Linked DNA regions of Homo sapiens. The protein of the gene in region 4 purifies or fractionates together with the protein of the main gene of each other region. This does not show direct contact. Each region holds a gene or a part of one and is shown on either strand. Other genes may lie near its edges.

Region 1 (3,500 bases), on a different chromosome or scaffold from region 4:
CAGTTTCATTCTCCTACATGTGGCTAGCCAATTATCCCAGCACTATTTGTTGAAAAGGGTGTCCTTTCCCCACTTTATGTTTTTGTTTGCTTTCTCGAAGATCAGTTGGCTGTAAGTGTTTGGGTTTATTTCTGGGTTCTCTAATCTGTTCCATTGGTCTATGTGCCTATTATTATACCAGTACCATGCTGTTTTGGTGACGATGGCCTTAAAGTATAGTTTGAAGTCAGGTAATATGATGCCTCCAGATTTGTTCTTTTTGCTTAGTCTTGCTTTGGCTATGGGACTCTTTTTTGGTTCCATATGAATTTTAGAATTGTTTTCTCTAACTCTGTGAAGAATGATGGTGGTTTTTTGATGGGGATTGTGTTGAATTTGTAGATTGCTTTTGGCAGTATGGTCATTTTCACAATATTGATTCTACCCATCCATGAGCATGGGATGTGTTTCCATTTGTTTGTGTCATCTATGATTTCTTTCAGCAATGTTTTGTAGTTTTCCTTGTAGAGGTCTTTCACCTCCTTGGCTAGGTATATTCCTAAGTACTTCATTTTTTTTTGCAGCTATTGTAAAAGGGGTTGAGTTATTGATTTGATTCTCTGCTTGGTTGCTGTTGGTGTTTAGAAGAGCTACTGATTTGTGTACATTAATTTTGTATCTGGAAACTTTGTTGAATCCTTTTATCAGTTCTAGGAGCTTTCTAGAGGAGTCTTTAGGGTTTTTGAGGTAAACAATCATATCATCAGCAAACAGTGACAGTATGACTTCCTCTTTACCAATTTGGATACCCTTTATTTCCTTCTCTTGTCTGACTGCTCTGGCTAGGACTTTCAGTACTGTGTTGAAGAGGAGTGGTGAGAGAGGGCATCCTTGTCTTGTTTCATTTCTCAGAGGGAATGCTTTCAACTTTTCCCCATTCAGTATTATGTTAGCTGTGGGTTTGTCATAGATGGCTTTTATTACATTGAGGTATGTCCCTTGTATGCCGATTTTGCTGAGAGTTTTAATCATAAAGAGATGCTGGATTTTGTCTAATGCTTTTTCTGCATCTATTGAGATGATCATGTGATTTTTGTTTTTAATTCTGTTTATGTGGTGTATCACATTTATTGACTTGCATATGTTAAACCATCCCTCCATCCCTGGTATGGAACCCACTTGATCATGGTGGATTGTCTTTTTGATATGTTGTTGGATTCGGTTAGCTAGTATTTTGTTAAGAATTTTAGCGTCTGTGTTCATCAGGGATATCAGCCTGTAGTTTTCTTTTTTGGTTGTATCCTTTCCTGGTTTTGGTATTAGGGTGATGCTAGCTTCATAGGATGAATTAGGGAGTGTTCCTTCTTTCTCTGTCTTGCGGAATAGTGTCAATAGGATTGGTACCAATTCTTCTTTGAATGTCTGGTAGAATTCTGCTATGAATCAGTCTGGTCCTGGACTTTTTTGGTTGGTAATTTTTAATTACCACTTCAATCTCCTGCTTGTTATTGATCTGTTCAGGGTATCTAATTCTTCCTGATTTAAGCTAGGAAGTTTGTATCTTTCCAGGAATTTATCCATCTCTTCTAGGTTTTCTAGTTTATATGCGTAAAGGTGTTCATAGTAGCTTTGAATGATCTTTTGTATTTCTGCTCCCATTTTGTTTCTTATTGAGGCTATTTGAATTTTCTCTCTTTTTTTTCTTGGTTAATCTTACTAATGGTCTATCAAGTTTATTTATCTTTTCAAGGAACCAGCATTTTGTTTTTATCTTCTGTATTTTTTTGTTTGTTTGTTTCAATTTCATTTAGTTTTTCTCTGATCTTGGTTATTTCCTTTTTTCTACTGGGTTTGGGTTTGGTTTGTTCTTGTTTCTCTAGTTCCTTGATGTGTGACCTTAGAATGTCAGTTTGTGCTCTTTCAGTCTTTTTGATGTACGCATTTAGGGCTGTGAACTTTCCTCTTAGGAGGAAAAGTGGCCTTTGCTGTATCCCAGAAGTTTTGATAGGCTGTGTCACTATTGTCCTTCAGTTCAAAGAATTTTTAAATTTCCATCTTGATTTTGTTTTTGACCCAGTGATCATTCAGGTGCAGATTATTTAATTTCCATGTATTTGCATGGTTTTGAAGGTTCCTTTTGGAGTTGATTTCCAGTTTTATTCCACTGTGGTCTGAGAGAGTGCTTGATATAATTTCAACTTTCTTAAATTTATTGAGGCTCATTTTGTGGCCTATCATATGGTCTATCTTGGAGAAAGTTCCATGTGCTGTTGAATAGAATGTGTATCCTGCAGTTGTTGGATGGAATGTTCTGTATATATCTGTTAAGTCCATTTGTTCCAAGGTATAGTTTAAATCCATTTTTTCTTCATTGACTTTCAGTCTTGATGACCTGTCCAGTGCTGTCAGTGGAGTAATGAAGTCCTTCACTATTATTGTGTTGCTGTCTGTCTCATTTCTTAGGTCTATTAGTAACTGTTTTATAAATTTGGGAGCTTCAGTGGTAGGTGCATAAATGTTTAGGATTGTGATATTTTCCTGTTGGACAAGGTCTTTTAGCATTATATAATGTCCTTCTTTGTATTTTTTTTTTTTTTTGAGACGTAGTCTCCCTCTGTGGCCCAGGCTGGAGTGCAATGGCGTGATCTCAGCTCACTGCAACCTCTGCCTCCCGGGTTCAAGCAATTCTGCCTCAGCCTCCCGAGTAGCTGGGATTACAGGTGCCCGCCACCACGCCTGGCTAATTTTTATATTTTTAGTAGAGACAGGGTTTCACCATATTGGCCAGGGTGGCCTTGAACTCTTGACCTCAGGCAGTCTACCCGCCTCAGCCTCCCAAAGTGCTGGGATTATAGGCATGAGCCACTGCACCTGGCCCCTTCTATGTCTTTTTTAACTGCTGTTGCTTTCAAGTTAGTTTTTCTGATATAATAGCTACTCCTGCTCACCTTTGGTGTCCACTTGCATGAAATGCCTTTTTCCACCCCTTTACCTTAAGTTTATGTGAGTCCTTATGTGTTAGGTGAGTCTCTTCAAGCAGTAGATAGTTGGTTGGTGAATTCTTATCCATTCTGCAGTTCTTATCTTTTAAGTGGAGCATTTAGGCCATTTACATTCGATGTTAGTATTGAGATATGAGGTAGCATTCCATTTGTCATTTTATTTGTTGCCTGTGTACTTTGTTTTTTTGTTTTTTTTTTAAATTGTATTTTTGTTTTATAGGTCCTGTGAGATTTATGTCTTAAAGAGGTTCTGTTTTGATGTGTTTCCAGGATTTGTTTTAAGATTTAGAGCTCCTTTTAGCAGTTCTTGTAGTGGTGGCTTGGTAGTGGTGAATTCTCTCAGCATTTGTTTGTCTGAAAAAGACTGTATCTTTCATACACAATGCCTAGTTTCGCTGGATACAAAATTCTTGGCTGATAATTGTTTCGTTTGAGAAGGCTGAAGATGGGCCCCAATCCCTTCTAGCTTCTAGGGTTTCTGCTGAAAATCTGCTGTTAATCTGATAGGTTTTCCTTTAT
Region 2 (3,500 bases), on a different chromosome or scaffold from region 4:
AAAAAAAAAAAAAAAACAGAATTACTATATTTTGTAAATGGAAATACCACTATTAAAAACAGAATGCTATAAATAGAATGTCTTTTGTTCCAAAGCTGATATACTAGAGCGATGCAAAAATAATATAAAAGCAATACATTTTGTGGCAAAGTTATCTCAGGGTCAACGCTGCAGTCTGAAGTGCCACTGGCAAGTTTTCTCAGGGCAAACAGGAAAAGGGTTACAGTCCTCATTTCACGCCTCTGTTTTTTTTGTTTGTTTATTTGTTTTTTGAGATGGAGTCTTGCTCTTGTGACCCAGGCTGGACTAGAGTGGCATGATGTCAGCTGACTGCAATCTCCCGGGTTCAAGCAATTCTCGTGCCTCAGCCTCCCAAGTAGCTGGGATTACAGGCACCACCCCACCACGCCCAACTAATTTTTGTGTATTTAGTAGAGATGGGGTTTGACCATGTTGGCCAGGCTGGTCTTGAACTCCTGACCTCAGGTGATCCGCCTGCCTGGGAATCCCAAAGTGCTGGGATTACAGGCATGAGCCACCGCGCCCAGCCCATGCCTCTATTTTTGTAAATAAAATTTTACTGGCACACAGCCATGCTGATTTATTTACATATTGTCTGTGGCTGCTTTTGTGCAACAAGAGCAGAACTGAGTAGCTAGAACGAAGACCACACGGCCTGAATAGTCTAAACTATTTGCTATCTAGTCCTTTACAGAAAATGTGGCTGGGCACACTGGCTCGTGCCTATAATCCCAGCACTCTGGGAGGCCGAGGCAGGCAGATCGCTTGAGCCCAGGAGTTCAAGGCCAGCCTGCGCAACATGGCAAAACCCCGTATCTATGAAAAAATACAAAAAATAGCTGGCATGGTGATGTGCACCTGTAGAGCCAGCAACATGGGAGAATGTGGTTGCAGTAAGCCGTGATAGTGCCACTGCACTCCAGCCTGGGTGACAGAGAGAGACCCTGTCTCAAAACATGAAAAGAAAAAGAAAATGTGTGCTGACCCCTGTCCTAGAATCTGTCCATGTAAATAATAGTGCAGTAGGAATTTAGTATCTTTTCACCCTGGCCCCAAGTAAAGTCTTGAGATCTTATGGAATCAGAGAAGACAAGCCACCTAGCCTCAGGCGTTCTATGAGGATGGGCTGAGGCTGGAGCCTGGGTCTGAACTCTCAGTCCACTATTTTGGGGAAGGTGGGGGATGGGGTATAGAAGAAGGAGGTACTGGGGACAAGCCAAAGCACTTGGGAAGGCGGTTTAAAGGCCCAGATTTGCAAAGGGTTGCCCCAGGCTATATAGCACTGGAAAGCAGCAAAACCTCCACGGAAAGACGTGTGCCACCCAAAGCAGGCACGCTGGGGCTCTGTCCTCTGGCTAGCTTGAAAACATCCAAATCAGGCCAGGCGCGGTGGCTCATGCCTGTAATCCCAGTACTTTGGGAGGACGAGGCAGGTGGATCGCCTGAGGTCAGGAGTTCAAGACAACCCTGACGAACATGGTAAAACCCCATCTCTACTAAAAATATAAAAAATTAGCCAGGCGTGGTGGCAGGTGCCTGTAATCCCAGCTACTCAGGAGGCTGAGGCAGGAGAATAGCTTGAACCTGGGAGGCAGAGGTTGCAGCGAGCCAAGATCATGCCATTGCACTCCAGCCTGGGCAACAAGAGCAAAACTCCCTCTCAAAAAAAAAAAAAAAAGAAAAGAAAACATCCAAATTAAAACTGTTACTCCTAATCCTAACACCAGAAGGCAGGCATGTGGAACAATACCAGGTTTGTAGAGCAACGGCCCTGGCCCCAGCCCCTCCGCAGAACATGGCCCTCCTTACCCTGTAGATTTGGTAAAGTCTCCCCAGATGTCAGCAGTGGCAGGATTGGGCTGTGGCCAGGGTACAGGAGCACCTCCTATTGATGTTCCCGAGTCCGACCCGTAGGAAGAGAAGAGGGGACAGAGAAGTCAGAGACCTTTCTGGTTGTTTCAATGACCAAATCATGAGACTCAGTGATCAGTCTCATGACACCAGGTAGCTGGGAAAGCCACACCAGACATGCTTTTGGGCAACCAAACACCCTGAGTTGCCACACTTCCAGCATCTTCTCACCAGCCCTTGTGCGCTCTGGAGAAAACGCAGAAAGCCACATACAAGGTGGAACGAGGGGTGCCCGCGGGATGGGTGGTTAGTCTCACGTCATCTAACATGCATACCTGAAGCTGACTTTGTTATCAACCATTTATGTTGAAATCTATTTAAAATTTACTATAACCCGTCTTAGCTTCTTGAACGGAGAATGTCCACCAAAACCGCAAGATCATCTTCATATCAAGCCTGCACTACCATGTCTGGATGAACTGGCTGAGAACACTACGTGCCAGCCACGTGCCAAGTCCCAGGCCCCAAACTGGTTAGGGGTCAGGAAGAGCATTCCAAAGAGCTCACACAGAAGCTCAATCCTATCTCTCCACCAAGGTAGGCGACGCCATGGGGCTGCAATGCCTGCTTTTGTGCTTTTCAGGCACCTCCCCCAGTGCTGCCAACTGCCCTTCTGAAGGGCCTGTGTTTGCCACCCTCCACCTTGGCACTAAGTTGCTATTTCTAATCTGCTCTGGGCCAGGAGAACAGATAAAACTAGGGCCCTCAATGGTTTAGAGTTTTACAGTTCACCAAGTGCTCAAGGCACATTATCTTCTGTGAACCTCACCCCAGCCCCTAGGGAAAGACAGATTGGGATGAGCCACGTGACTGTGCAGGTCATTTCAGTTTCCATTCTCTTACCTCTAAAATGCTGAAAATAACAGGAACTACTCCATAGGACTGGTGTGAAGATTAAATATCCACAGAATGCTTAGAACAGGTCCAGCATATAGTGGCAATAACGATATTAATAAAATGAGATCTAACATTCAGTGAGCACTTAGAATGTTCCAAAAATTGTTCTAAGTGCTATACATAAATCAGCTTATTTGATCCTCACAAGAAACTTATATTTTAAGTATCATTACTTCCCCTATCCTACAGATGAGAAAAATGAGGCATGGAGAAGTGATTTTCTAAAGATCACAAAACTGGGCTGGGCACAGTGGCTCAGCCTGTAATCCCAGCACTTTGGGTGGCTGAAGCAGGTGGATCACCTGAGGTCAGGAGTTCGAGACCAGCCTGGCCAACGTGGTGAAACCTCTGTCTCTACTAAAATTACAAAAATTAGCCAGGTATGGTGGTGCATGCCTGTAATGCCAGCTACTTGGGAGGCTGAGGCAGGAGAATTGCTTGAACCCAGGAAGCGGAGGTTGCAGTAAGCTGAGATCATGCCACTGCACTCCAGCCTGGGCAACAGAGTGAGACTCCTTCTTAAAAATAAATAAGTAGGCGAGGTGCGGTGGCTCATGCCTGTAATCCCAGCACTTTGGGAGGTCAAGGCGGGAGGATCACCTGAGGTCAGGAGTTCAAGACCAGCCTGACCAACATGGAGAAACCCCGTCTCCACTAAAAATACAAAATTA
Region 3 (3,500 bases), on a different chromosome or scaffold from region 4:
ACCTGGTAGGCCTGGACATGTCCAGGCAAGAGGCTGCTTCCTGGGATGGTCTCATCTCCAGCCAGGTCAATGGCTACCACGGTCTGCTGCTGGTACTTCTTACACAGCTCCACCACCTTGGGGGACCAGTCTGTGGGCGAGATGCCCACCCAGGCTCTGTCACCAGCACCATGGAGAGACCTCCCAGCCTACCTGCCTGCTGTCCCACCCAAACCCCCCATGGGAGGCCAGCACAAAACAGGGCTCAGTGTCTTCAAATCCTAACTGCTATGTCCTAACCACATGGCCTGCGGAAAACTGCTCTGCTTATGGCCTCAGTTTCCGCCCTTTTCAGAAAGAACCCTGCCAGCTATTGCACAGGGTCACGGCCAGGCTTTGCCGAGGCCATGTGTGTAAAGCACCAAGGACGGGGCCTGAGCTCAGTAAATGACACGGACCCTTCTCTCACCTGGTGTTTCCAACAACACTCATGGTAGGCTTATTCCCATGCGCAGATGAGGAAACGGAGGACCGTTTAACACGTCATCTAAAATAGAACTCACACTAGTATTGGGAAGTATCTCGCTAATGTATTAGGTACTCTTAACCAATAAAGTTATTCTGAAGTGTTTAAGAAAGAATGAATGAACACAGGCTTTGGAACTAGATGTCCCCGGATACAAATCCAGGGTTTGTGCCTTGCAAGAGGCTGCACCTCACTCCACCTCAGTTTCCTCATCTGTCAAATGGGACTAAGCAATGGTAGTTCTGCTTTGCAGGCTGCTGCGAGGATTAGAGGAAATGCGTGCAGGTAGCTCTTTGGTTCTTACTAATCCTGAGGGTAGAGGAATGAAGTAAGTGTGATCATCTCCTTGTGACAGTGCACAACTGAGGTGTCTTGGTGCATAACCAGAGCAGCAGTGTGACCTGCCCAATATCACACAGTGAGGCTGTGCACCATGAGGCACAAACTCTAGAGATCTGATCTGCGTCAGTGACAAGGGAGACCCCTCAGAAATCTTGGAAATCAGACCTATTCAGGCCCAGACAGGATGGGGCCTGGTCCACTGGGTCTCGAGGGAGGACTATGGGCTGATCAGAATCTAGCCTAGATTTTTTTTTCAATAGTTACGTTCCTATTTGGTGTTGAGCTTCCTGCAGGGTGGCTATAAAGGCATGGTGTCCCTGGGGAGAACATCTCCAGAAGTTCTGAGCCTGCCTAGGAGGTCTCCAGTTGTTTCATGAAGCCCCAAGTTCATGCCAGTGGGCTCAAGGGGACACCATGGGGCTGTGGGGCACAGGGGAGATCAGGTACAGCCCCACTGCTAGGCCAGGAGGTCAGGGCCAGGGTGAGACGGGCGGCCCTGGGCAGGGCGGTGATCCTACTCACTGGGCTGGTGGCGCATGCAGCACAGGATGGACCGGGCCTTGACCCCGAAGTCTCGCTCCCCCTCCTGCAGGCCCTGGCCCACTAGGGCCACCACCTCGTCTGGGGTGAGGTCCCCTCTGTGTGAGGAGAGGAGTAGGGATGGGCCTGAGGCAAAAGGAAGGCCTAAAGGGCAGCTCTGGGACTGGGACAGAGGAGGAAGAGGAGGCTTTGGGGAGGACCCTCCTCCCCCACTGACCCACTGCCTCAGAGGAAAGACTGGCAGAGATGCCCCCAGGCCCTAGCATGTCCCTCTAGCTCTTAAAGCAGCTGGGTGCTCCTAGATCTTAGTGGGAGGTGTGGGGTGTCAACATGGCCCTCCCCACCCCCAGATGGACAGCATTGCTAAGCTTGGGCCTGCCATGATGTTCACATTCTATATGTATCAGAATCATGGCTCAGAAAATGGGGCAGGGTGGTTTTGTGATACCACTTAGAGATCCATGGGGGCCCAGGCAGGGGGCTAGAAATGGGCCAGACTCACTTCAGTTATGAAGTTAGAGCAGGACCTTTAGGGCCTTTAGAGATCTGATCAGCATCAGTGACAAGGGAGACCCCTCAGAAATCCTGGGTGGCTAAGCAGGTTAACATTCCTGGACAGCAGGCCTGTGGCCAGAGCAAGACACAGCCAAACACTTGTGCCCAAGGTAAGAACATAACGGCAAAGGGAGGATGGGAACCACGTCTCTTGTGACAGAGTTAAACCCATCTTTCTGAGGCCATGGACCAGACTGGGGGCAAGAACAAGGTCTTGCTTGGGTCAGGGATTCCCAGCAGTTCGCCCTTCCAGTCTCAGAGCTGAGCCTCCCAGCCACACCCTCAGCATGGCCCCTTCCAGGCCCATCACTCACTCAGCCTGGTTCCAGGGGATTGGCTCCACTTTGGAGTTGGCCAGCAGGTGCGGACTGTACCGCACCTCCACATACACCACGCCCTCTTTGGCCTTCATCTCTACAAACTCATAGGCGATCCTTTTGATAGCCTCCCGGCAGCCCCTGGGAAGGGAAGAAAGGGGTTGGGAACAACCTTCCCCAAGTCCCTTGGGAGCTCCAGGAGCAAATGACATCCCCAACCCTTGGCAGATTAAACCCACTTCATCCCCCAGACCCAAGCTCTGGGCATCCACTGGATAAGATCCCAGACACTGGGCAAGTCCTATCAGCTCTACTTTGGAACTGCATACCAGTTCTCACCCCTCCATCCTGGCCTGAATCACGCCATCTCTAACTGGCCTCCCTGTCTCCATGCTTGCCCCTGTCATCCTGTTCTCCACCCAGCAGTTGGGGCAATCTTTTAAGAAGGTAAATCAAAGCATATCACTTCTCCCCTCGAAGCCCCAGTAGCTTCCTGCCACGGAGAGTGACATCGCAACTCCCAGGTCCTGCCCACAAGGCCTGCATCCTCCAGGCCTTGCCAGCCTCCCCAGCACCTTCCTTCTCCCTCATTCCCTGAGGCCACCGGAGAAGACACAGGCCTGCTCTTCCCCGATACTGTCCTACACTGCGTCTCTCCCGCTCCCCTGGTTTAGAGCCAGCTGAAGCTTCACCTCCTCAGAGAGGCCTTCCCTGACCACCTTATCTTTTTTTTTTTTTTTTGAGACAGAATCTTGCTCTGTCGCCCAGGCTGGAGTGCAGTGGCGCCATCTCAGCTCACTGCAGCCTCTGCCTCCTGGGTTCAAGTGATTCGTCTGCCTCAGCCTCCCAAGTAGCTGGGATTACAGGCGCATGCCACCACGCCCGGCTAATTTTTTGTATTTTTAGTAGAGACAGCGTTTCGCTGTGTTAGCCAGGATGGTCTCGATCTCCTGACCTCATGATCCGCCCACCTCAGCCTCCCAAAGTGCTGGGGATACAGGCGTGAGCCACTGTACCTGGCCCAGACCGCCTTATCTTAAAACGGCCCCTCCACCATTCTCCTGGGCTTTCTTTTTCTCCCAGGTCCTTATCACTACTCAACATTGTGTGTCATATGGCTTATCAGCCAGTTTGCTGTATTCCCTACTAGAATGCAGTCTCCATGTGGCAAGGACCCCTCTGTCTTGGGATGGCTGCGACCTCTCAGCTGAGGACCATGCCTAGGACAGAGTAGCCCAATA
Region 4 (3,500 bases):
TTGCACTTCTACAGCTCTGTACATTTATAAGAATAAATGCAATCACACTAGTTGAGCTGTGTCTGTGTTGCAGTGGATTTTAAAGGCCTTGGCCAGGCACAATGGCTCATGCTTGTAATCCCAGCACTTTCAGAGGCTGAGGCAAGCAAATCACAAGGTCAGGAGTTTGAGACCAACCTGACCTTACCTGGAATTGTAGATCCTGTCACCCCGTCTCTACTGAAACCCCGTCTCTACTAAAAATACAAAAACTTAGCTGGGTGTGGTGGCAGGCGCCTGTAGTCCCAGCTACTCAGGAGCTGAGGCAGAAGAATCGCTTGAACCCAGTGGGCGGAGGTTGCAGTGAGCTATCGCGCCACTGCACTCCAGCCCGGGAGACAGTGCGAGACTCCGTCTCAAAAAAATAAAAGTTAAGAATATCCTGGATATCCTGAAATGAAGAAATAGCTTAACAGCTGACTACAGCAATTCCTTCTGGAAACTCCCTCCCCTTTCTGCTGTTCCCACTGGGCATCACTTTCGGGCCTGTTTCACTGGACGGCATGAGTGAAATAGGCTCTTGCAAGTCACTTCTGTAGAATGGGTTCCCTTTAGCAGACCTTTTCTTTCCAGCTCATCTTTATTGTTTTTTAGCTGAAGAAAATTTGGAGGCAAGAAAACCCAGGAGATTTTTGAAGGTGGTTTCCTGGAACTCCATTGTATAGGGACTCTAGTGTGGGCAGAAGCCCAGAAAGATTCTTTTGCATGAATTTAAACCTTTATCCCACAGGAAGGAGCCAGTGGACTAAGTGATTAGTCTGTGGTGACAGGATCTACGATTGCAGGTCAGAAACCTCAGCAGCAGCAGACAGCCGACAGCCTCTTGCAGGTGTGTGCCACCCCTGGAGCAGGGCATCAGGAGATTCCCTCCTTCACACTTCCTGCCCGTTTAGGAAAGCTAACTGGGCTTCTCCTCGCCATGAAAATTGTCTAATTCGGTTCCTGAGTCCCTGTAATCTGCAACAGTTGAGTATGTTGTAGAGAAGTGGTTGACAGTCAATGGTTTCAGTTTTGCAGGCCGTACAGTCTAGTGCAACTCTTCAACTTTGCCACTGTGGCTTGAAAGCAGCCAGACAGTATGGAAATGAACAGGTATGGCCAGAACTGGCCTGCCAGCCTGGTTTGCGGACCCCTCCTCTAGGGCCAGTTGAAAAACAGGAGCCGGGCCAGGCGTGGTGGCTCACGCCTGTAATCCCAGCACTTTGGGAGGCTGAGGTGGGCGGATCACGAGGTCAGAAGATCGAGACCATCCTGGCTAACACAGTGAAACCCCATCTCTACTAAAAATACCAAAAAAATTGGCTGGGCGTGGTGGTGGGCGCCTGTGGTCCCAGCTACTTGGGAGGCTGAGGCAGAAGAGTGGCGTGAACCCGGGAGGCGGAGCTTGCAATGAGCCGAGATCGTGCCACTGCACTCCAGCCTGGGCTACAGACCGAGACTCCGTCTCAAAAAAAAAAAAAAGAGAAAAACAGGAGCGAAGAGTCTTGCACTGGTGACTGGTGTATCCTTTGAGTCACCTTCTCTGTAGGGCTGCTTGCAAGCTGTGCCTCTGGGCAGACCCAAGGCCTGCTTGCAAGCTGTGCCTGTGAGGCCAAAGCTGGCTTCCTCTCCCACTCCTTCCCATACCGGTGTTCTGGAGTGTAGCCTGCTCACTCCCCCGAGAAGCTGTATGAAATAGGAATAAAGCAAAAACTGGGGCATCATGTAGGGAGGGCTCTTTTGGCCCACTTTAGGAACAGGTACCCCAAAGGCTGAGTGCTCATTACCCCACAGCCTCAACACAAGTGATCTTTAATTGCTTTGACAGAACAAGGGTGTAAACAGCGTTAGTCTACAGGCCTACCCTTTCCCTTTCCTCCTCTGCAGCTGAGGAAATGGGCAGTCCCATCGCTAGAACCCTGTTCTTAGAAATTACCTGGTCTCTTGCTCTGACAGATGCTGAGCTAATGCTGGGTCACATATTTAACAGCTAGCCTAAAGCCATAGGCTGGAACAGAGTTGGCAAGAGCCTGGCTCAGGTGTAGCGAGGAGTAGAGAGGGAAGACAAAGGGAGTATCAGACCCCTCACACGGGCCTCTCCTCCCCAAAGATGGTTCCACCTGGGTGTGTTCAGGAGTCACTACCTTCACGCTCCCTCCTCCCCCACCCCAGCTCTTCCAGGGTATACCTAAGGGGTCCAGAGCAAGGAAGGGGGCTTGAGCTGGGCCCGAGGAGGTGAGGTTGGCTGGAATTTAGGGTGGCTGGCAGAGGAGAGCTGGGGAGGCTGCAGCCTTTACAGCAGACAGCAGGCACGGAATATCAGCAGGTCCTTCGGCTCAGTAAGCTTCAGTGAGACACTCTCATTGGCCCCAATGAAGAGCACGCCACCACGTTGCAGAGGGATTGGTGTCTGGGTTGTGGGTGTGCTGGCTATTACTGTCCCCTGTACCATCAGGAGGATGCTGGCAGAGTCCAGTGCCAAGACCTTGTATTCAGTGACAGAGCCAGGGACCTGGGCAGGAAGAAATGATAAGGCAGTGCAGCTCAGACTCTGCTCTCATCAGCTCATGGGCCCAGGACAGTCCCCAGGGCACGAGGGAGAGCTCTGCCACCTTCTCGCACAACCCAGGCTCAGTCAGCATAGAGGCCTGGTCCCTGGTACAGGAAGGAATGGGCAGGCCCTGGGGCCACCCTCCGCCAAGTGGGCTTGACAGGAAACCCAGCCCCAGGTGTCCTCCACATCGTGACCCTTGCCAGAGATTTTCATGGCACACGAAGGACACCCATCATAGCCCCTCACTCACCTCCGTCTTCATAATGGTGAAGTCTGGTACAGGGGGGTCATAGATTGAGAGGTAGGGGTCTTCCTGACTCCGTGTTGGGAGAAAGAGCCTGTCCTTGCTGGAGCTAGGGGTATAGCTGAGCATTTCACACAGGGTTGGCACATCAATGAACTTGGGTGTCAGGCCAGCACGAACTGTGTTGTCTGAACACGCCATGCACTCCACGCAGTCTGGAGAGACAGTCGTCATGTGCTAAGCTGATGAAGTATGCCTTAGCTCTCCAGTTCTGGGCCTCCTAACCTGAGCTCCATGAACCCCATGCCAAGTTAGGTAAAAATTTCCATGAATTGTATTCTCTGGGAGAATGGGGTTAAGATATCAAATACCAAAAACAGGTGACAGGTCACCCATTATTGTCAGAGGGGAGTCATGTTAACCCCTGGGGGTTGGGGAGCCCCAACTCTGTAGTCTCCCACTTCTACCCCAGAATCCTGTGCATGAGGCATGTGTGGATAAGCAGCCAACAGTCGAAAGGTGGCATCCTTCCATGGCAACATGCATATTTTAGTGTAAAAATCCCTGGTAGGTAGGACAGACATACAAAGGCTGTGACAGAACAACAGCTTTGATCCAATATAGCCTGCGTTCAAATTGTGGTTCCCACACTGACTGGCAGGACTTAAAATCAGAGTAGCATGG
Region 5 (3,500 bases), on a different chromosome or scaffold from region 4:
GCTTAGCCCTGGCCCTGGCTGGATGCAGGACAGGTTGGCAGGGAGGCAGCAGAGCCAAATTTTGTACAAAGGAGCTGGTGCTAGCAAGCTCAGGAAGAAGCCACAGCCGGAAGTTCACCTTGCCAGGACCTGGCTCAGCTGCAGGTTCCCACCGGGCCACCAGGTGGCGGTGGGAGCCCAGCCCTCTGAGTCCACGTTGGGCCCCAGTCTCACTCTGTCTTCAGGACAAAGCCAGGGGCTGCAGCCCTTGTTCAGCAGACTCTGGCTTTTCACAGCCTGTTTGAAAAAGGGAGTAGCTTCATTTGATTGAGTTTCCACTATATCATGGGCATATACTCTGTTCTAGTAAATCCCTATTTTACAGAGGAAGAATTTTAGCTCCCGACAATGATGTATCTTCCCTGAGTTCCTGCAGCTAATGAGAGGCAGAAGTGGGATTTGAACCCAAGTCCCTGTAACAGCAGAGCTCAAGCCACACTCCATTCTGGCCCCCACGCTACTCACTTCTGTCTGCACCCTGTATCCACTCAGCCAAGCCTGGCGGCACTGCTCTGTAACCCTCCACCAGCCTGTCCACAACCCCTCCTGAGGCTGCCTGTGGCCAGTCCTCTCCTCCCCACCCCTTCCTGCTGGTCACCCGTGCTTCCTGGCACCACCACACTATTCACTCATCCAGGCCTTGGCTTATGCTCCCCCTCTGGCTGGAAGAGCCTCCCTTTTCCCTCCTCCCATGTCTCCTGCCCCCTTTTTCCCTACCCCGGTCCTGCTTATCCTTCCCAGAGACCTCCAGGCCCCTCGGGAGGCTGCGGCCCCTCCTCTATGCTCCCATGGTGCACGTGCGCTCCTCGTGTAGCAGTGCCCACTACACATGGCTGTGACCTCTGCTGTGTTTCCACTGAGGGCAGGAACAGCATTGTTATCTCTTTTTTTATTTCCGAGATGGAGTCTCACTCTGTCACCTAGGCTGGAGTGCAGTGGCACGATGACAGCTTACTGCAGCCATGACCTCCCAGGTTCAAGTGATCCTCCCACCTCAGCCTTCCGACTAGTGGGACTCCAGGCATGCACCACCATGCCTGGATCATTTTTCATATTTTTTGTAGAGATGGAGTCTCATCATGTTGCCCAGGCCGGTCTCAAAGTCTTGGACTCAGGCGATCTGCCTGCCTCAGCCTCCCAAAGTGCTGGGATTACAGGCATGAGCCACTGCACCTGAGCTGTTATCTCTACACATAGTGTCTAGTGCTGGGCCTGGCATACCAAGAGGCTGGGGAAATGTTTGCCCCGCGTTGGAGCACCAGGGAGCAGCGGTGGCTGTGGAACCTGCTCAGCTCCTCCCCCAGCATAGGAGCCTCAGCCTGAGGCTTTTCTTCCTTTTGACAGAAGAAGGTGTTGGGCCCCAGTTTTATTAAAATATTTTACACTGCAGGCAACCACTCCCCCATTTTCTTTGTATTGCAGCCATTTTTTCAGAATAAATTGAAGGTATGGTGCAAGACACTTCATAAATTAGGTACTGAATAGAAAGTCACACATTACTGAAAACTCACAGAAATACCCACCTAAGATGTCGCCCAACTCAAGGAAGTCCTGTGCTCCTGGAGTTCCTAGGTGGATGCGGGAGAGGGGTCTACACCACAGCAGTGTGGCTGCGCAGGATGGGGGTATCTGTACTGACCACATTCTGACCTCCTTCTCACTCCTCCCTTGCAGACCTCCAAGAAGCTGGTGAACTCGGTGGCTGGCTGTGCTGATGACGCTCTTGCTGGCCTGGTGGCCTGCAACCCCAACCTGCAGCTCCTGCAGGGCCACCGCGTGGCCCTCCGTTCTGACCTGGACAGCCTCAAGGGCCGGGTGGCACTGCTGTCGGGTGGGGGCTCTGGCCATGAGCCTGCCCATGCTGGTGAGTATCCTGGGGTGGGGCAGGGGGTACTAGTGGAGTGGACAGGGCCTCCTGGGGGATCCTTAGTGCTGCCATGAAGTGCAGGATGGAGCTCAGCCCAGAATCAGGAACTGGGGTACTTCCCACTCTCCCACTCCCTCCGGCTGGGATCAGGGGCCCATCACGGCCTCTCTGAATCTGTTTCTACATCTACAAATCTACGAAGTTGGGCCAAACAATCTCTCAAGTCCTTCTAGCTCTGAGAGTCGGTGATTCCATGAATCTTCTGGACCCTCCAAGCCCAGCAGACCCACCCCGATTCCATGAAGGCTTCCTGACTCTTCCAGCCTACAGCAGCACCCCTCTTCTGAATTCCCACCTGCTGTGTCCCACTTGTGGACTGTCCTGGCTTCTTTCCTGTGTGGAGCCAGGGACGCAGACTCTCCTTGAGGGCTGCTGGAGGGCAGGGACTAGGATGCGCGTCATTTCTCTGCTTCCTGTCTTCCTTCAGCAAAATCCATTCATTTGGCAAACACTCATGAGCCCACTGTGTACCTGGCGCTGTACTGGGCACTAGGGATACCAGACAGGCAAGGTCCCTGCCCTCGTGGAGCTTATATTCTACTTAGGGGAGACAGACAATAACCAAGTAAACACGAAAGTAAATGAGATCATTTCAGAGGGTGCTAAGTGACTTAGTAAAGACAGTAAAATGGGGCAAAGGAACAGTGAGTCCCTGGGGAGGGAGCTGGTGACTGCTTCAGGCTGGGAGGTCACAGAAGGCCTCTCTAAGATGCCTCCTAAGAAGGAGTCAGCCATGTGAAGACCTGGGGGATCTTTGAGCACCAAGCACACAGTAGGGCTCACCAAACCATGACCCCCGGAGTGTGGGAAGCCCCAGTGACTACAGGCGCGAGTCCCACCCAGCATGCTCACTCCACTCCTTCCACCTCCAGGTTTCATAGGGAAGGGGATGCTGACTGGGGTCATCGCGGGAGCTGTGTTCACCTCCCCGGCAGTGGGCAGCATCCTGGCAGCCATCAGGGCCGTGGCCCAGGCCGGCACAGGTAAGCCTGGCATGCAGGAGGGGCTGCGGCAGGGAGGGCACAGTAAGCACACTGAGCCCTTCCGGCTGCTCCCGCAGTGGGGACGCTCCTTATCGTGAAGAACTACACTGGGGATCGGCTCAACTTCGGCCTGGCCCGGGAGCAGGCCCGGGCTGAAGGCATCCCGGTGGAGATGGTGGTGATTGGGGACGACAGCGCCTTCACTGTCCTGAAGAAGGCAGGCCGGCGGGGGCTGTGCGGCACGGTGCTTATACACAAGGTGGGCTTCCACCGGGGACGTGGAGACTGGCCAGCCCTTTCCAGCCTTCCCTTGCCTGGCAGCACCCAGTAACTGGACCTTTCCAGCCCTTCCCCAAGAAGCTAGTTCTTTTTCTCCAGTGTTCCCTGATCTCAGAAGGCCCCGCCATCCCCTCAGCTACCTAAGCCCAGATACAGGCATTTTCCCAGACTCGTCCCCTTTTCTTCTCCACACCCAATCAGTTGCCCGGTCCTGGTGCTTCTCCTCCCAAATGTACAACACACATCCTTCTCAGACCCCGCCCTCCTGCTTT
Region 6 (3,500 bases), on a different chromosome or scaffold from region 4:
GGATCACTTGAGGTCAGGAGTTCGAGACCAGCCTGACCAATATGGTGAAACCCGGTCTCTAATAAATATACAAAAATTAGCCAGGTGCGGTGGCGGGTGCCTGTAATCCCAGCTACTAGGGAGGCTGAGGCACGGAGAATTGCTTGAACCCAGGAGGCGGAGGTTGCAGAGAGCTGAGATCGCAATACTGTACTCCAGCCTGGGCGATAGAGCAAGACTCCATCTCCAAAAAAAAAAAAAAAAAAAAGGTGGGGGGGGGAGTATAACAAAAAGCCGAGAACAGTATTTTCAGTGACAATACCAAGACTCAAAAAGATTTCGACAAGCTGATTCAACCAGCTGAAATCAAAAGAAAAAGTCTAACAGAAACAAGTGTCAATTTCCACATTCAACTTCAAACAATCAATTGTGCAAATAGAGAACAGGGTGCCTAGCTTCTCTGGAGTGTTTTAATACAGTGAATCCTCCTGAGATATAAACAACTGTGTTCAAGTCTACACTAAACAGTGCCAGACAGCTACTCTTTTTCACTTCCTGCATTTCTTTCTGTCTTCTGTCAGCTGTCACTTCTTAGGTTATCAGTTTGTTTTGTCCCACTTCCAAGTCACTGCTTCTAATCTACTGTCAGCTCTAGGAAAACCAGATAACTGAGCAAATGGGAACTGTGTGCAAGTTACAGAAGAGCCTAGAGGGTTTTATGGGTTTTGCTATATATATCTTGATTTCTCAGAAGCTGTTTCTGCTCTTATCTTCATTCTTGTCTACAATACACATGGCTATAACTGCAGGACATGCAAGTTCTGAATAGGTGATATATTTCTGTATCATGTCCAGACTGAGGAAAACAATAAGCTCTTACAGTTGTGTGCTGTTCATACCATGTCTGGAATACTGTTTTCAGTTCAGATCAACAATTACAACACATATAGTAACAGGACCAGCTGGTAGCAAGTCCACATATCATGCTGTATTAAGCCAAGTGAATGTGCTGGGAATGTTTAACCTTGAGACTTTCTAAGATGAAATAAAAGTGCTTGTGGGGGATGGGGTTGGCTGGAGGGGAGAGCTGCCATCAGAAAACCTGAAGGATTAACCACTACAAGACAGAACAGGCTTATTTCCCATTGCTCAAATGGGATAAACTGTAAACAAGAGTCAAGCATTATAGGAAAAGCAGATTTTGGTTCAAACACAAATGTTTAAAATGTCCAACAGTAAAGTAGGCTGCTTCTCTAAGCAGCAAGCTACTTAACCTTAAAGTACTTAAGTTGAGGCTGGAGCCTCATTTCTCTGGGATGTTGGAGAAAGAATTCCTGCACTAGACAGGAGGTTAAACTACATTCTTTAGACTCTTCCAAAACAAGGCAGTGTAGCAAGAAATTCATTATCATTCATTTAATTCATTTTGCAATTCTTTGCAATTATCATTCATATAATTAATTTTGTCACATAAGGTGGAATGAAAAGGTAAATCAATACTACGAAAATGTGAGTTTAGAGTAACATATCAAAGTACAGTACATATACCAATAAAATGATGCAGAAGCAAGAAAAACTCACCTCCTGAACAGAACATGGCAAAACCACACGGCTAAAAAGACAAAAGAAAAAATATATATATTACATATGAAATAGCTTTAAACACAGATCTCTGAAGAGGTTTTACCTTAAATCCAATGATAACAGAGACAGGTCTCTTAAATCAAAAAAATACAAGGGTGTCATTTATGGAAGAGGGTCTTTGCAATGCCTACACCATAATTGGGGAACTAAAACTATCATTCCTGGGTCTCAATGATCATTTGCATTTAGTGTTCCCAGGACCCCAAACAGCAGCTGCAGAGATTCTTGTGAGTAAAGAAAAAAGAGAAAACTCAACATTGAAAATTGCAGGGTACAGAACGTATTATTTGCAGATTGTCTGGTCAGGTTGCCCTGACTAAATTTTTAGTATGGTTTCATTCTCCACCTATATACTGTGCATTTTGTTTTTATGATGCTTCTTACAGAATACGTGTCTTGAATCTCATTGAATAAACGCTTCCAGAAACTGTTCCCCCACTATTCAATTATTCCTCAAGTTTACTAAGAGAAAAATAAGGAGTCGTGTAGAATTAGTAAGAAAAATTTTACTATGGAAACTACTTGAACCTTATAATAATCCCTTCCAGCATATATACAATATAAGGTTGACATGTGTTTCATCCTGTCCAAGAGTTTCTTATTGTATATACCAAAAAGATGTCATTATAGCTCCATTGCAAGCAGTCTTAAAAGATAAAATCCAAAACAGTATCATGGTATATTGTTTTATCAAAATATTGCATCTTATCTCTAGATTTTATAAGGAGAGTCCTTAATTTATTTCCACCATAAATCCTGAAAACCAAGAACATCCCTGTATATCAATGGTCTCATAATTATAGTTGGTTCCAAGACAGCAACTTCCTTTTTTGTGGGATGGGGGTATACGATCCTTCTCATACTTTCCTAATCTTATCTGTCATTTTATGGAAAATTTTCAATAGTTTTCCTCATTCCAATTTCTTTTCAGCTTATAATTTCTTTTTCTTTTTTTCTTGCAGTAAGAGTCATTTAGCTTATTGTTTGTATTAGTGACAATCTTTTTGGCCTAGGCATTCTTTTTTAATAGTCTTTCTTATTCGTAAGTATGAAGAGAGTAATAAAACCCAGATTATATCTAGTTTGCATTCCAGCTACACTTTCCATCTACTCCTTTCTCCCTACTCTCCTCAAACATCTATGTCTGAATGTTCACATTACCTCAATCTCCAACATGCACAAGTCTGTTACTCCCTCCCCTTTGACTACTGAGTTACTCGCCACTCTTTGTCTTTCTGGTAACGGTGATTCAAAAACAATGAACACTCTCAAATCCACAATGGTCACTAATTTCTACTCTCCATCAAGAATAAACTTTTTGTAAGTCCTTCTATACCTAAAAATTCCGAATCATTTCTCTTCTCAGTATACACTAACTTGCTCACTGTCCCAGAGCATAAAATGAGGGAGAGGAAGACTAGAAAGCTATAGGTTGGGAGCAGATTATCAGGACCTGGAATACTATGGTAAGAAATCCATTAAATTCATCAGGCAATAAGGAATCCCAAAAGGTTGGTCCAAGAGGTAAGTGACAACTACTGCTGACCTGAAGAAGTCATCTGCAGGTGGTTGAAAACACTGACAAGCAGGAGAAGTGGGGAAAGCTATCTTTTGGGAGGCTAGGCAAGAACTGTCACAAAGGCCTGAACCAAGATGATGGACTGCAGAGGGAATGGAAGGAAGGGATAGAGAAAGAAGAGTTAGTCTTCCCTTAAGTTTCACAAAACCAAAGAATCACTGCTGAGTAATTTTACACTCACTAACAGGAAGATCCCTATTTTTATTTAAGAACACTTTCAAGGAAATTCTTTCAAAAAATTAAAGTGACTGATTAAGACATTCAGAACAATGAGTCAAGTAACTTCTTCAAGATTTGC
Region 7 (3,054 bases), on a different chromosome or scaffold from region 4:
AGCTTCCTACCTCAAGAGCAAGCATATCTCTCCTTTTCTGCCTTAGGACTCTCTGAAGTTATAGAAAGCTAAGAGCAAGCTTTAACTTGGAAAGACTAAGAAACTAACACCCCCTCAGGAGCAGCCCTCAACTGTGGGGAATGGGAATTGGTGGCTAAATACCATCCTTCTGGAAGGGGCAATTCTAATACGTATTCCGTGAGATTTCTCAGAGAGTCCCCAGTGGAATTGAACCCCAGTTGTTTTCTTTCTTGGCTTTTTTCCCTTCTGTTTCTCACTCTTTTTTATCTCTCACTGTGTTTTCTGGAATCTCATTTCATAAAAGTAAATACACCCAAATTTGTATGTCAGACTCTGCTTTCAGGAAATCTCAAACTAAGATAACTTGCTGTGTTCCCAAAGGTGGGTAAAGCAGGAATCTGAGATTTCCAAGGAATCTCAAGAAATGGATGCTCGTCCTAAGTTGGATCTGGGCTTCAAGGAAGGACAAACCATCAAGTTGTGTATCGGGGTGAGTATGGTTTTTAAAAATTTTGTTTTCCTGTGCTTCCATAAGCCTATGACATCTTTCTCTTGCTCTTCTTTTTTTCTTTTGTAGAACATTACAAACAAGAAAGGAGGTGCTTCTAAGCCCAGGACTGCAAGGGGTGGGGGTCTGAGCTTACTCCCACCCCCGCCAGGAGGCAAAGTCACTATTCCCCCACCATCCTCCTCAGTTGCCATCAGCAATCATGTCACCCCACCACCCATTCCGAAATCTAACCATGGAGGCAGTGATGCAGGTAAATCTAGTACTTCTAATTTTGAGAAATCCAATCTTATGTTTTAATTAAGCAACACCTGTTTGTCAAGGAGAGTTAATGTTTTTGCTATGAAATAGCTCATGGTACTGACAAGGTGATTCTGTCAGCTTCTAGCAAGGAATCAAAGCTTTTCTAGTGAACTAAGAGTCATAGTATCTCATAGGTTCTTTGGCAGAAAATATTTGCTTATTAAAATGACAATTTCCTTCATTTTTTTCTTGGTTAGATGCTTATAAGCTTTTGAGTCAGATGGACCAAGATTTTGGTCATGGCTCTGCTACTTTATATTTGAATGTGCTTGGTAAACATTACTTAAGTTTTTTGAGTTTCAATTGCCTTATCTACAAACTGGAGATGTAAAACCACCCCAGCGGGGACCTTGGCTCATGCCTGTAATCCCAGCACTTTGGGAGGCTGAGGTGGGTGGATTGCTTAAGCTTAGGAGTTTGAGATCAGCCTGGGCAACATGATGAAATCCCATCTCTACAAAAAAAATACAAACATTAGTTGGACGTGGTGGTGCACGCCTGTAGACCCAGCTATTTGGGAGGCTGAGGTGGGAGGATGGCTTGAGTCTGGGAGGCTGCAGTGAACCATGATTGTGCCACTGTACTCCAGTGTGGGTGACAGAGTGGGACCTTGTCTCATAAAAAAACAAAGAAACAAACAAAAATAAATAAATAAATAAATAGATAAAATAAAATAATTACCACCCCAAGGTCATGAGGGTTAAATGATTGACAGCACCTAGCATAGCACTTGGAACATAGTAGGCATTTAGTAAATGTTATTAAACTTTCCCATTTCTTCACAAGAGCAATTGGGAGAAAAGAAGATATCTAGGTTTGTCCATACACTTTCATTCTTTCTTTCTGTTTGGTGGGAGAAAGAATAAATATGGTTATATCTTCTCATTTGAAAAATGAGAGCATTGGAACTGAGAAAAGAATTTTTCTGAGATTAGAGAACTGTGTCTTAGAATCTGAGAATTTTAACTTAATGTATTGGACAGTGCAGATAATTTGTTGAATTGATTACTAAGGGTAAGCTTTCTCTTTCTGGAATTTTTGAGGTGAAAATATTATAGCCTGCTTCTTTTGGTAAGTGTTGCCAGAAGCCACTGGGGATAGTATCTAAGATTTTTTTTAAATTAAATTATTATTTTGAGATAATCGTAGATTAACATGCAGTTGTAAGAAATAATATGAAGAGATCCTGTTTACCCTTTTCCCAGTTTCCCTCAATTGGTAATATTTTGTGGAACTATTGTCAAGTATCACAAATGAAAAATTGATGTTGATACCACTTTCTCATCTTACTCAGCTTACACCATTTTACATGTTCTCATCTGTGTATATTTGTGTGGATCTGTATATTTAGTTCTATGCAGGATTTTTTGTTATTTTTTGAGATAGGGTCTCACACTGTTGCCCAGGCTAGAGTACAGTGGTGCAGTCATAGCTCACTGCAGCCTCAAACTCCTGGGCTCAAGAGATCCTTCTGCGTCAGCCTCCCAAACATCTGGGACTACAGGTGCACACTGCCACACCAAGCTAATTTTTTAATTTTTGTAGCAACAGAGTCTCACTACGTTGCCCAGGCTGGCCTTGAACTTCTGGACTTCAGTGATCCTCCTGCCTTGGCCCCCTAAAATGCTGGGATTACAGGTGTGAGCCACTGCATCTGGCCAGTTCTTTGCAGTTTTGTCATGTGTAGGTTCATGGATCCACCATCATTTCAGGTTATAGAACAGTTTAATCACTACAAAGATCCCCTGTGTCAACCTTACACAACCACACCCATCTCCCTCTCATCCTTTCTTCCCCCATTCCTAACGCTTGGCAATCACCAGTCTGTTCTCCATCTTTATAATTTTGTCACTTCAGGAATGTTCTATGAAAGGAATCATACAGCATGTAACCTTTGGGACAGGCTTTTCCCACTCAGCATAATTCCCTTGAGATTCATTCAAGTTGTGTGTCAATAGTCTGTTTCTTTTTATTGCTGAATAGTATTCCATGGTATGGATATACCAGTGTGTGTAACTATTGCCCATGGAATGACATCTAGGTTGTTTACAGTTTTTGACCATTATGAATAAAGCTGCCGTGGCATTTGTATACAGATTTTTGTGCAAACATAAATTCTCATCTCCAAGATTTTTTTTTTTTTTTTTTTTTTTTGAGACGGAGTCTCGCTCTGTCGCCCAGGCCGGACTGCGGACTGCAGTGGCGCAATCTCGGCTCACTGC

The links.
Region 1: the proteins of MPI (region 4) and FAM185A fractionate together in Homo sapiens (co-fractionation; one large-scale study listed by BioGRID). This does not show direct contact.
Region 2: the proteins of MPI (region 4) and NECAP2 fractionate together in Homo sapiens (co-fractionation; one large-scale study listed by BioGRID). This does not show direct contact.
Region 3: the proteins of MPI (region 4) and ADA purify together in Homo sapiens (affinity purification with mass spectrometry; one large-scale study listed by BioGRID and IntAct). This does not show direct contact.
Region 5: the proteins of MPI (region 4) and TKFC purify together in Homo sapiens (affinity purification with mass spectrometry; one large-scale study listed by BioGRID and IntAct). This does not show direct contact.
Region 6: the proteins of MPI (region 4) and PITPNB fractionate together in Homo sapiens (co-fractionation; one large-scale study listed by BioGRID). This does not show direct contact.
Region 7: the proteins of MPI (region 4) and NECAP1 fractionate together in Homo sapiens (co-fractionation; one large-scale study listed by BioGRID). This does not show direct contact.

Annotation. Positions count from the first base shown.
Region 1 is NC_000007.14:102,800,999-102,804,498, reverse strand, and holds part of FAM185A (protein FAM185A), read right to left. Parts: intron 1-3,500.
Region 2 is NC_000001.11:16,454,224-16,457,723, reverse strand, and holds part of NECAP2 (adaptin ear-binding coat-associated protein 2), read right to left. Parts: intron 1,907-3,500; coding exon 1,831-1,906; intron 1-1,830. UniProt on the Homo sapiens protein: Involved in endocytosis.
Region 3 is NC_000020.11:44,624,200-44,627,699, forward strand, and holds part of ADA (adenosine deaminase), read right to left. Parts: intron 2,401-3,500; coding exon 2,257-2,400; intron 1,486-2,256; coding exon 1,370-1,485; intron 131-1,369; coding exon 3-130; intron 1-2.
Region 4 is NC_000015.10:74,896,542-74,900,041, reverse strand, and holds part of MPI (mannose-6-phosphate isomerase), read right to left. Parts: intron 3,032-3,500; coding exon 2,823-3,031; intron 2,531-2,822; coding exon 2,312-2,530; 3' UTR 1-2,311. UniProt on the Homo sapiens protein: Isomerase that catalyzes the interconversion of fructose-6-P and mannose-6-P and has a critical role in the supply of D-mannose derivatives required for many eukaryotic glycosylation reactions.
Region 5 is NC_000011.10:61,336,228-61,339,727, forward strand, and holds part of TKFC (triokinase/FMN cyclase), read left to right. Parts: exon of another isoform or gene 1-22; coding exon of another isoform or gene 23-163; intron 164-1,713; coding exon 1,714-1,903; intron 1,904-2,838; coding exon 2,839-2,949; intron 2,950-3,026; coding exon 3,027-3,208; intron 3,209-3,500.
Region 6 is NC_000022.11:27,912,757-27,916,256, forward strand, and holds part of PITPNB (phosphatidylinositol transfer protein beta isoform), read right to left. Parts: intron 1,592-3,500; coding exon 1,561-1,591; intron 1-1,560. UniProt on the Homo sapiens protein: Catalyzes the transfer of phosphatidylinositol and phosphatidylcholine between membranes. Also catalyzes the transfer of sphingomyelin.
Region 7 is NC_000012.12:8,092,274-8,095,327, forward strand, and holds part of NECAP1 (adaptin ear-binding coat-associated protein 1), read left to right. Parts: intron 1-402; coding exon 403-511; intron 512-598; coding exon 599-782; intron 783-3,054. UniProt on the Homo sapiens protein: Involved in endocytosis.